Linked DNA regions of Homo sapiens. The protein of the gene in region 2 purifies or fractionates together with the protein of the main gene of each other region. This does not show direct contact. Each region holds a gene or a part of one and is shown on either strand. Other genes may lie near its edges.

The links. Proteins that work in one complex are often made in the same cells at the same time.
Region 1: the proteins of ANGPTL7 (region 2) and ETV3 purify together in Homo sapiens (affinity purification with mass spectrometry; one large-scale study listed by BioGRID and IntAct). This does not show direct contact.

The regions. Positions count from the first base shown.
Region 1 is NC_000001.11:157,135,596-157,139,822, reverse strand, and holds the start of ETV3 (ETS translocation variant 3), read left to right. Parts: upstream 1-1,427; 5' UTR 1,428-1,507; intron 1,508-3,457; 5' UTR 3,458-3,470; coding exon 3,471-3,516; intron 3,517-4,114; coding exon 4,115-4,227. UniProt on the Homo sapiens protein: Transcriptional repressor that contribute to growth arrest during terminal macrophage differentiation by repressing target genes involved in Ras-dependent proliferation. Represses MMP1 promoter activity.
Region 2 is NC_000001.11:11,192,355-11,196,481, reverse strand, and holds the end of ANGPTL7 (angiopoietin-related protein 7 precursor), read right to left. Parts: coding exon 4,112-4,127; intron 2,903-4,111; coding exon 2,708-2,902; intron 2,316-2,707; coding exon of another isoform or gene 2,238-2,315; exon of another isoform or gene 2,073-2,237; intron 2,022-2,072; coding exon 1,823-2,021; intron 1,629-1,822; coding exon 1,459-1,628; 3' UTR 501-1,458; downstream 1-500. UniProt on the Homo sapiens protein: Has a role in the formation and organization of the extracellular matrix.

The DNA.
Region 1 (4,227 bases), about 150 Mb from region 2:
ATGCAAAGAATATATAGACAGTTCCTACAAAGAGCTAGTGGACTAGTTGCAGGTATCGGTAACCCTCTCTATGGTGTTTAAGTTCTGCTCCTTATTTTGTTCACCTACAGAGTAGGAAGTTCTAACTAGAAAAGACACAACAATGTTATCTTTTTTAAAAAACAGGTAAGGTAATTTTAGGCCAGAGGGAGCCAATTTACTAATTAATTTATCAAGAGCTACACAGTGACTAGTAGCACATTCAAAACTGGAAGCAATTTTTGTAACAACTAATATCTCCAAGTCCCATGTGGCAGAGACGGTGCAAAGGTCTTACTAGAGCAGAGGTACAAAGTTTTGATCCATTTGATCAAAATTGATCTTCAATTCTCCTTCAATCCCATCTCTCTTCTTCACCTCCCCCACGCTCGTATTTATTCTAAATTCTTTAACCTTTACTGATCCTCACTACTCCCTTTCTTCTGCCTCTGGAGTGAAACTATGCCTGGACACCACTCAGATTTACAGGGGTGGGACTGCAGATAAAGCTGAACTGCTTGAGATTCTTTATCCTTAATGAGCCTCTAAAGGAAGAAAAAATCATGCTTTGGACAGACAAATTGCCCGAGCAGGAACAAAAGGTAAAACCAAAAGGGGACACGCGTTTTAATGACTTAGGGAGAGGACTTGCAAGCTGCTTAGACTGGGACGAATTAAGACTAAATGCAGTGGGGTGGGAACTAGCGGGGAAGCGGTCATGCCCCCCAGTCTTCCCAGGGAGGAAATGCCAAAGCGACGTGCTTCAGAGAAAGCTTTGCGGTTTCTTTCATACGTATATGAAAGGGCCCTTTCTTAAAGGGTAGGGAAATTGCGTCTGAAGTCTGCGGGTCCCGTCTTCCCATTGTGAGGGATCCCCACTCTGGGAGGTCGCAGGGCCCATTTCTGGAGAAAGACGGGCCGCCTCTCTGTTGTGTGGGAGAGACTGTTTCCCGGCGCCTGGGCCTTCCTGTGGGGTCTGCGAGGTCCCCTCCCCCGGGAGGTGGGACCCCGGGGCAGCGCCTCGCCCCGCAAAGTCCGTTCTGCCTCACGGCGCAGGACTGGCGGGGGAAGCGTATAGCAGCTCAGCACCCCCTCGCGCCGCGTCACCCCTCGGCGTCTGGAGGACCCTGGCCCAGCAGCGGACCGGGCCGGCCGCCCGCCACGAGCGTGCGTAACGTGCCCCCGCAGCGTGACGCACGGGCCGTGCCGGGGCGGATGCGCGGGATGCGGGCCGGGAGGAGCGCGCAGGGGGAGGAGTGCGGGCGGAAGTCGGCGTCTGCTGAAAGGAGAAAGGAAAGGGAGACGCTGCTGGGTGCGGCGAGGTGAGGCTGGGAACCGGCGGGAGGGCGCCTCCTCCTCCCCCGCCCTCTCTGCTGAGGATGGAAGTGACGAAAGCAGCCGAGGAGGTCACTTCCTGCTGGGGTGGATGAGGAGGAGCCGGAGACGCCGCGGAGGAGACCGGACCGAAGACGGACCGTGCCGGGAAGAGGTGAGTCCCGGCCTCGCCTCGGCCGCCGGGGTGTCTGGGTTGGATCCGGGACCCTGGCGGGGACGGCGTCCCTGGAATCGGGGCCGGCCGCCAGGCCGCGTACCCACCCAGCTGGGCCTCACCCAGTGCGGGGGGCGGGGGAGGGTGGGATCCCGTGTCTGTCTGAGGGGCGACAGGGACCCAGGGCAGCGTTCATGCGGTGGCCCCGCGCAGCCCTGAGGCCACGGTTAAGGGAAGCCCGGCCCGGGAGGTGAATGGCAAGGAGGTTCTGGGGGCTGTGGAAGCCAGGACCCGGAGCTGCTGCGGGAAACCCGCAGCGCCAGACTGTGCATGCCTCACTCTTCGGGGAGTGGTCGCGATCAGAGGAAGGGCAGGGGTCCTGTGGTTTGCAGAGTTGAGACGAGTGGCCCTACTTGGATGGAAGTGTCCTTGCAGTGAATATGCGAAAGGCGTGCAGAGGCGCCCCAGGGCTCCTGGGAAAGGGACTTTTATGGGGAAAATTGGAGAGCTGGAGTGTCAAGAGAGGGTTTCCTTGTCAGGTTATCGTTGCAACGGGATTTGGACCCCAGGGTCGTGATGGTTGGAGGGAGTTCTGTGGCAGGGTAAAAGGCCTCGCGATCTGACAGCGCATCCTAGGAGTTAAGAGTCCAGGGCAGCTTCCTGGAGCAGTGGGGAAATTCGTGTTTTTCCTCCCTCATTGTCACTAAGGTGGAAGAGGAAGCTCCTGCCTCAGCCCCGGTGCCTCGTTATTATGTATCTCGTGTGTGTGTGAGAGTGTGTGTGTGTGTGTGTGTGTGTGTGTGTGTTTTTCCTTGTCTGCTCCTTCCTTTGGGGTGTTTATCTTGTCCTCGGCCGCTAGTAGTTTTGTAGACTGACACTTGCTGGTCTCCTTAATGTGTTTGGTGAGAAAAAATATTCAAAAGATCTAGAGAAATCCTAGGTTAGGTGAAATTTCCAAGATAAGGAATTTGTCCCTACGCGGGGGCCACTTAGGCATTCTCTCCAGATGCCTGCTAATGTGGATGCTGAGGGCCTGTCATCCACCCTGGGGAACAGCGAGGGTAGATCTGCCCTCCCTCCATGTCCCTCTGGCAGTTTCACCCCTCCCTCCTTTTTGCTAAGTGATTAACACAAAGCTCCTTGCTGGGAGGAACAGGAAATTTATTGAGGAACTGTAAATCTGGATGGAATGAATTCAAATCGCAGCAAGACTCCTTCCACTCACTGGCCAGAAGGGCTTCAGAAATGCCTGCTTTTCACCCCTTCCTGTTAAATGGAGAAAATGTATAATTTTTCTCAAAAAATTTTTGAGAGTTTGTGTGTGTTTTTTGAATAGAGTAAATGTACATATGGTGTGTTTACTTCCTGTATCCCAGGGTATTTTTCAAGGGGGAGGGAGCAGTTTGTGGCTGGGAAGAATCTTCCTTCTATCTCACATAATTCAGTAAAATAAATCAAAATCAGATGTTCATTCTTGAGTGGGAATCAGATGGATTTGGGATTTTTTCATCCTTTAAACTGGTACATCTTGGTGAACTCAGGCTTGTGTATCTTGGCATGTGGGCTTGTCTAGTAATAGAAGACAAACTGTTTGACTTGTTTTGGCTGCGTTTTTGGACCCATTTCACTGTACCTTCCTTTTTTATTTTTATTTTTTTACATTTGAAGGGTTGGTCAGGAGGAGGAAAACAAATATTAAAGACAGTGTTTACACTTTGTGGTTTAAAGTCAGGTGAGAGATAATTATGGCTTTTGAAGCTGATGACCTGAGGCCCATCATTTGATAACTTGGGGAGTAGCAGTTTGGAGGTGACATGTTTGAAAGAAAGAGAGTTGCATACGGAAAGAAGAACAGGGGAAAGGAAGTTTGGGGAGAGACTGCCAGAAAACTTTTGAGAGGATACTAAATAAATAGCATCTTAAAGTAATTGTGTGGCTTGTGTCTCTCAGCAGGCGGGTGAAAATGAAAGCCGGCTGTAGCATCGTGGAAAAGCCAGAAGGAGGTGGAGGTGAGCAGAAGTTAATCATCTCTGATGTACCTGGAAGCTTCCCTCAGTGGTTCCTGTCCTCTCCACTTGAGCTCTGTTCACAAATGTCAGACCATGACTGACACTCTCTTGGCTAGGTGGATACTGGCAGGACAGTTGTAGGCTTGTTTCCTATGGATGTATATTTAACATGTCTGGTCACCACACCCATATCCTAAGCTTTAGAGTCTCTTTGCTGTCAGAGACACAGTTCCAACCTTAGGGAAAAGGAGTTTTCAGCTGTATTTTCCTGAAACATTAGTTTATCTTTCCTGTTTGTTCCCTTTAGCACTTTTATGTCCTCACAGAAAGTAGGTGTATTTAGTAATGTATGAAAAGGTCAGCTTAGGACATCTGGTTGCTGCTGCCCAACTCTTATCAGATTTAATGATTGCCACAAGGATAGGTGACTTCTCTGTGCTTTCCTCTCCCCATTGTGGTTAGGCCCAGCTGACTGAGAGTACTTACAGCATGTTTGCAAAGCACTCTAGATTCTGAGCAGTGGAATGTGCAGTTGGGGTTGCTGGTATGTATGTACCTACCTCTTAACTAGCTTAATCTTGACCTTCTCACATGAAAGGGTATCAGTTTCCTGACTGGGCCTACAAAACAGAGTCATCCCCAGGCTCCCGGCAGATCCAGCTGTGGCACTTCATCCTGGAGCTGCTGCAGAAGGAAGAGTTCCGCCATGTC
Region 2 (4,127 bases):
TGACTTTTTTAACCTATCTGCTACAGGGCAAATTAAATCCGAGATGTAATCCCAAATCAGGGCTAACACTGAGATAGTATAAACTACCCCCATCTCCTTAAAGCTCACATATCAGTAAATATATTTGCTTTCTTGGGGACAGAGGATTGAGTGGTTATTTGTTAGAAAGCGCACACACACCACTTTTACTTGGTTAGCCCCGAGCATTAGGGTAAGGTCTGCTGGCCTGTTTTTGCTTCTCTATCCTAAGTAGAATAGAGGGTCTGATAAGGCTGGATGCCTTCACTGCCCAGCCCCAGACGTGTAATCCCCTTTATGAAGAATTGTCCTGGTTGCTGCCCTTTTGTCCCTTACCTGTTCCCTTTTGGCTTCTGCTCCCCGCTTGGTTGCCCTGAACACCAAAACAAACCCCGGGCCTCTGTCACTGCTCACCCTCTGATTTAACTTTAACTTTTTATCCTGCTGTAAGTGGTAATGGTAAGAATTTAAAAAGAAGATACTCACATTTTGAAAGTGTTTATTGTAGAAGGAAAAGAAACGTTGAATGTTTAAAACAAAACCACAATATTTTATTTTTACAAAGTGAGATGCTTATTTACAGCATTTATTATTAACTATAACACCATCTACCTTCAGTTTTCAACCATTTCCTACAGACAAAATTTAAAAGGAAGCTCCTTGAGCTTGTTTCTTACAAAGTAAATAAAAATAGATATACCTGTATTAACTATGAATATTTTAAGGCAGTTTTGTGCCGGCATCCATGAGAGACTCTGTCCACCTCCTGCTGGTGCTTCATTCCTTTCAGTGCTGTACATGACCAAGGCGAGCAGGGGCAGTGCTCAGAGTCTGATCGCCAGATGCAGTGCCCTGGAGTTTCCTCCCCGCAAGTCCAGCCTGGGTCAGTTCCAGCCGAACAATTTTTGTGTTTTAAAAATAATGTGTAGACTCAAGATAATTTCACTGGATTTAAAAATAGAAATACCATTTCCCACCTGCCTCCTTCACTCCTTTCTCTAACACTCAAAGGCCTATCCTTTGAGAATCAAAATAATATGGTTCTTTTTAGCAAAGGGATTTGTGTTTTGCCCTCACATAGCCTAAGCCGTAGAGAAAATAGATAAAACGATCTCAAAATTATTTTCTTTCACAGACAAATCATGTGGAAAAGACAAGCTACTGCTATGTCAGGGATCTTGGGCAGAGAGACCCCACTCAGTCTACCACCTTGAGAAGGATGTGGCAGGACCCAGTGGGTTTAAATAGTTCATCCTGTTTACTGTAACATCCTTGGTACATATGATTTTTTTGTGCTCCTTGGAGACTTATTCTTTCTTTGGAGATTATAGGCTGTTTCTCAGTCCTACCCTTTCTAACACTCTCTTCCTGTCCTCATCTGCCCTCATCCAGTCTCCACGTGTCTCAGTTTCTGTATCCGTGCTCCACGGCAGCCTCCTTTTAAGGCTTGAAGTCTTCTGGGCGGATTTTCATCTCCACCCGTTTGAGGGAGTAGGTAGATCCATGCCAGCCATACCAGGTGATGCCATCCAGGTGCTTATTGTGCTCACCCAGGCGGTAGTACACTCCATTGAGGTTGGAGTCTGTGCAGCAGTTGTACCAGTAGCCACCTGGCATGAGAAACAGACCCAGTGCTAGTAAGTTGACTGTGATAGACCAGACATCAGGTAAGGAGTTAGAGCCAGGGTCAGAAAGAATACCAAAACCGGAATATCAACTGTACAGTTATAATTCACTCTTTCTCCTCAAGTGGGATTATGAGCTTGTACCTGAACTTCTCCTTTCCGGTCCCCCCAAATCTCACCTTTGCGGAGCTGTGCACACTTGTCCAAGCAGTTGTCATTGTCCTTGTCCTTGGTGCTGAAGGCTGTGTTGTTATGATACTGGAGGGCGTCGTTCCCCACATTGCCAGTGTAGTTCCCCAGGAAGAGGCGATAGCTGTTGAGTTCATTGCCCAAAACAAAGTGGCTATACTCAGCGTAGCGCAGGTTGCCCTCCCAGTCCTGTCAGGAGGAGCAGAGCCTTAAAGAAAGTGCAGCAGGCTCCATTTCATGCTGTCTCTATACCCCTTCTCTCCTGACAGTCCCATAGCCAAACATCTTTTTATAGGTGTGAATCTAATAAGACTTTATTACTTGTTTACCTCCAGTTTACTGTGTTAACCTGGGAATCAGAAAACAAGGCTCGAACTTCTTTCCTGATTCACCATATGGCCTTGATTAGTCTCTCTTTCTATATTCCTCACTTTCCTGCTTATAAGGTGCAGCTATGTTTTTGCTGAATCCCACACAGAGCTGCTGTAAGAGAAACATGAGGATATAGTGAGTGCTTTCAGACCTTCAGCAAGGGTCCCCAAACAGTATCAGTAAGATTTGCACCTAAAGGACCTCATGCTCGGCCAGAGCAGAGACTAGTGTTCGGCACAGCTGACTGTTGAATTTGCTCTACTCTGGCCTGGGTCTGGCCTCTTCCTGTCCCACCTGCAGCCCCACTTTTGTCGGGGGGTTGGGGGGGTTGCAGAAAGGAAAAATACCTATTTTTCCTCAACTCCATTACAACTTGCAGGAAAACCATCACAATGAATATACAGATTTGTCTTGAATCAGAATAGGAATGGCACCCCCGGAGTTGTACGCGGTCATGTGTGGTGGCACTGGTCCAGTCATGGGGCCCCTGGCCTTGTGCTTACCTCCATCTCTACACGCAGCCGGGTTGGCTGTCTGGAGAGCCGGTGGATGTGTTCGTTCCCCAGCCAGAAGTCCCCACGGATGCTGCCAAAGCCCTGCTTGTACTGCTTCCAGTCCCGGTAGAAGGAGACAAGGCCACTTTTTCGTCTCTGGATGATGGTCCAGCCTCCGCCTGAAGTCTCCATGTCACAGAACACCTGAAGCAGAGGGGATACTCTGGTGAGGGACTTGCAGGGGCAGAAGGCAGGAGCAAGAGGGCAGGCTTCCCAACCTGTTCCTGTCCCTGCAGAGCCAGTAGATGTGTGCACTCCCGCAGTCACACTGGCTCACTCGGGCAGTGATGCTGCCCCACTGCTGGTGAGCTGGGGTGGGTGGTGCATTGCTCTGGAAGAACGATGCAAATTGGGCCCGGGGGTGAGTGCACATGAAGCTTGGAGGGAAAAATCCAGATACTTTTTTTTTTTTTGAAGCAGAATTTCACTCTTGTTGCCCAGGCTAGAGTACAGTGGTGCAATCTCGGCTCACTGCAACCTCCACCTCCTGAGTTCCAGTGATTCTCCTGCCTTCCTAGTAGCTGGGACCAGAGTGCCTGTCACCACACTGGGCTAATTTTTGTATTTTTAGTAGAGACTGGGTTTCAGCATGTTGGCCAGGCTGGTCTCAAAGTCCTGACCTCAGGTGATTGTTCCGCCCACCTCACCTCCCAAAAAACTTGGGATTACAGGTGTGAGCCACCATGCCTGGGTGAAAATCCAGATAATTTGATGCTGCCTTCGTGTTTTCTTTTCTCCTCCCCCAAGGAATAGCTGTTCTAGGACATGGCAAGAGATTTAAACTAAGTTATGTGGTGGTTATAAGAATGATCTGATCTATGTTAGAAGGCTTGTTGTTTGACTGATAATGATTTGAAGGGGCCAAACAGATGCCTGGGTTTGGAGTGCAGGGCATAAACTGAGTGTTTGCATAGCTCTGTGGTGTTTGGTGTGTTTGCTTGTGTTTGAGTTTTCCTTTTTTTTTTTTTTTTTTTTAATTGAAATGGAGTCTCACTTTGTCTCCCAGATTATAGTGCAGTGGCGTGATCTCGGCTCACTGCAACCTCTGCCTCCTGAGTTCAAGCAATCCTCCTGTGTAGCAGGGATTACAGGTGCCCACCACCATGCCTGGCTAATTTTTTTGTATTTTTAGTAGAGACAGGGTTTCACCATGTTGGCCAGGCTGGTCTTAAACTCCTGACCTGAAGTGATCCACCTGCCTCGGCCTCCCATAGTGCTGGGATTACAGGTGTGAGCCACTGCGCCCAGCCGAATTTTCCTTTCTTTAAACTGTGAATGGCCCTGTTGTTGTAGTCCCCTTGAGGGGGTGAAGGACAGGTATTAGGGCATGGCCAGTGACTGTAATGACCTCACCTCCAGTTCAGGGCTG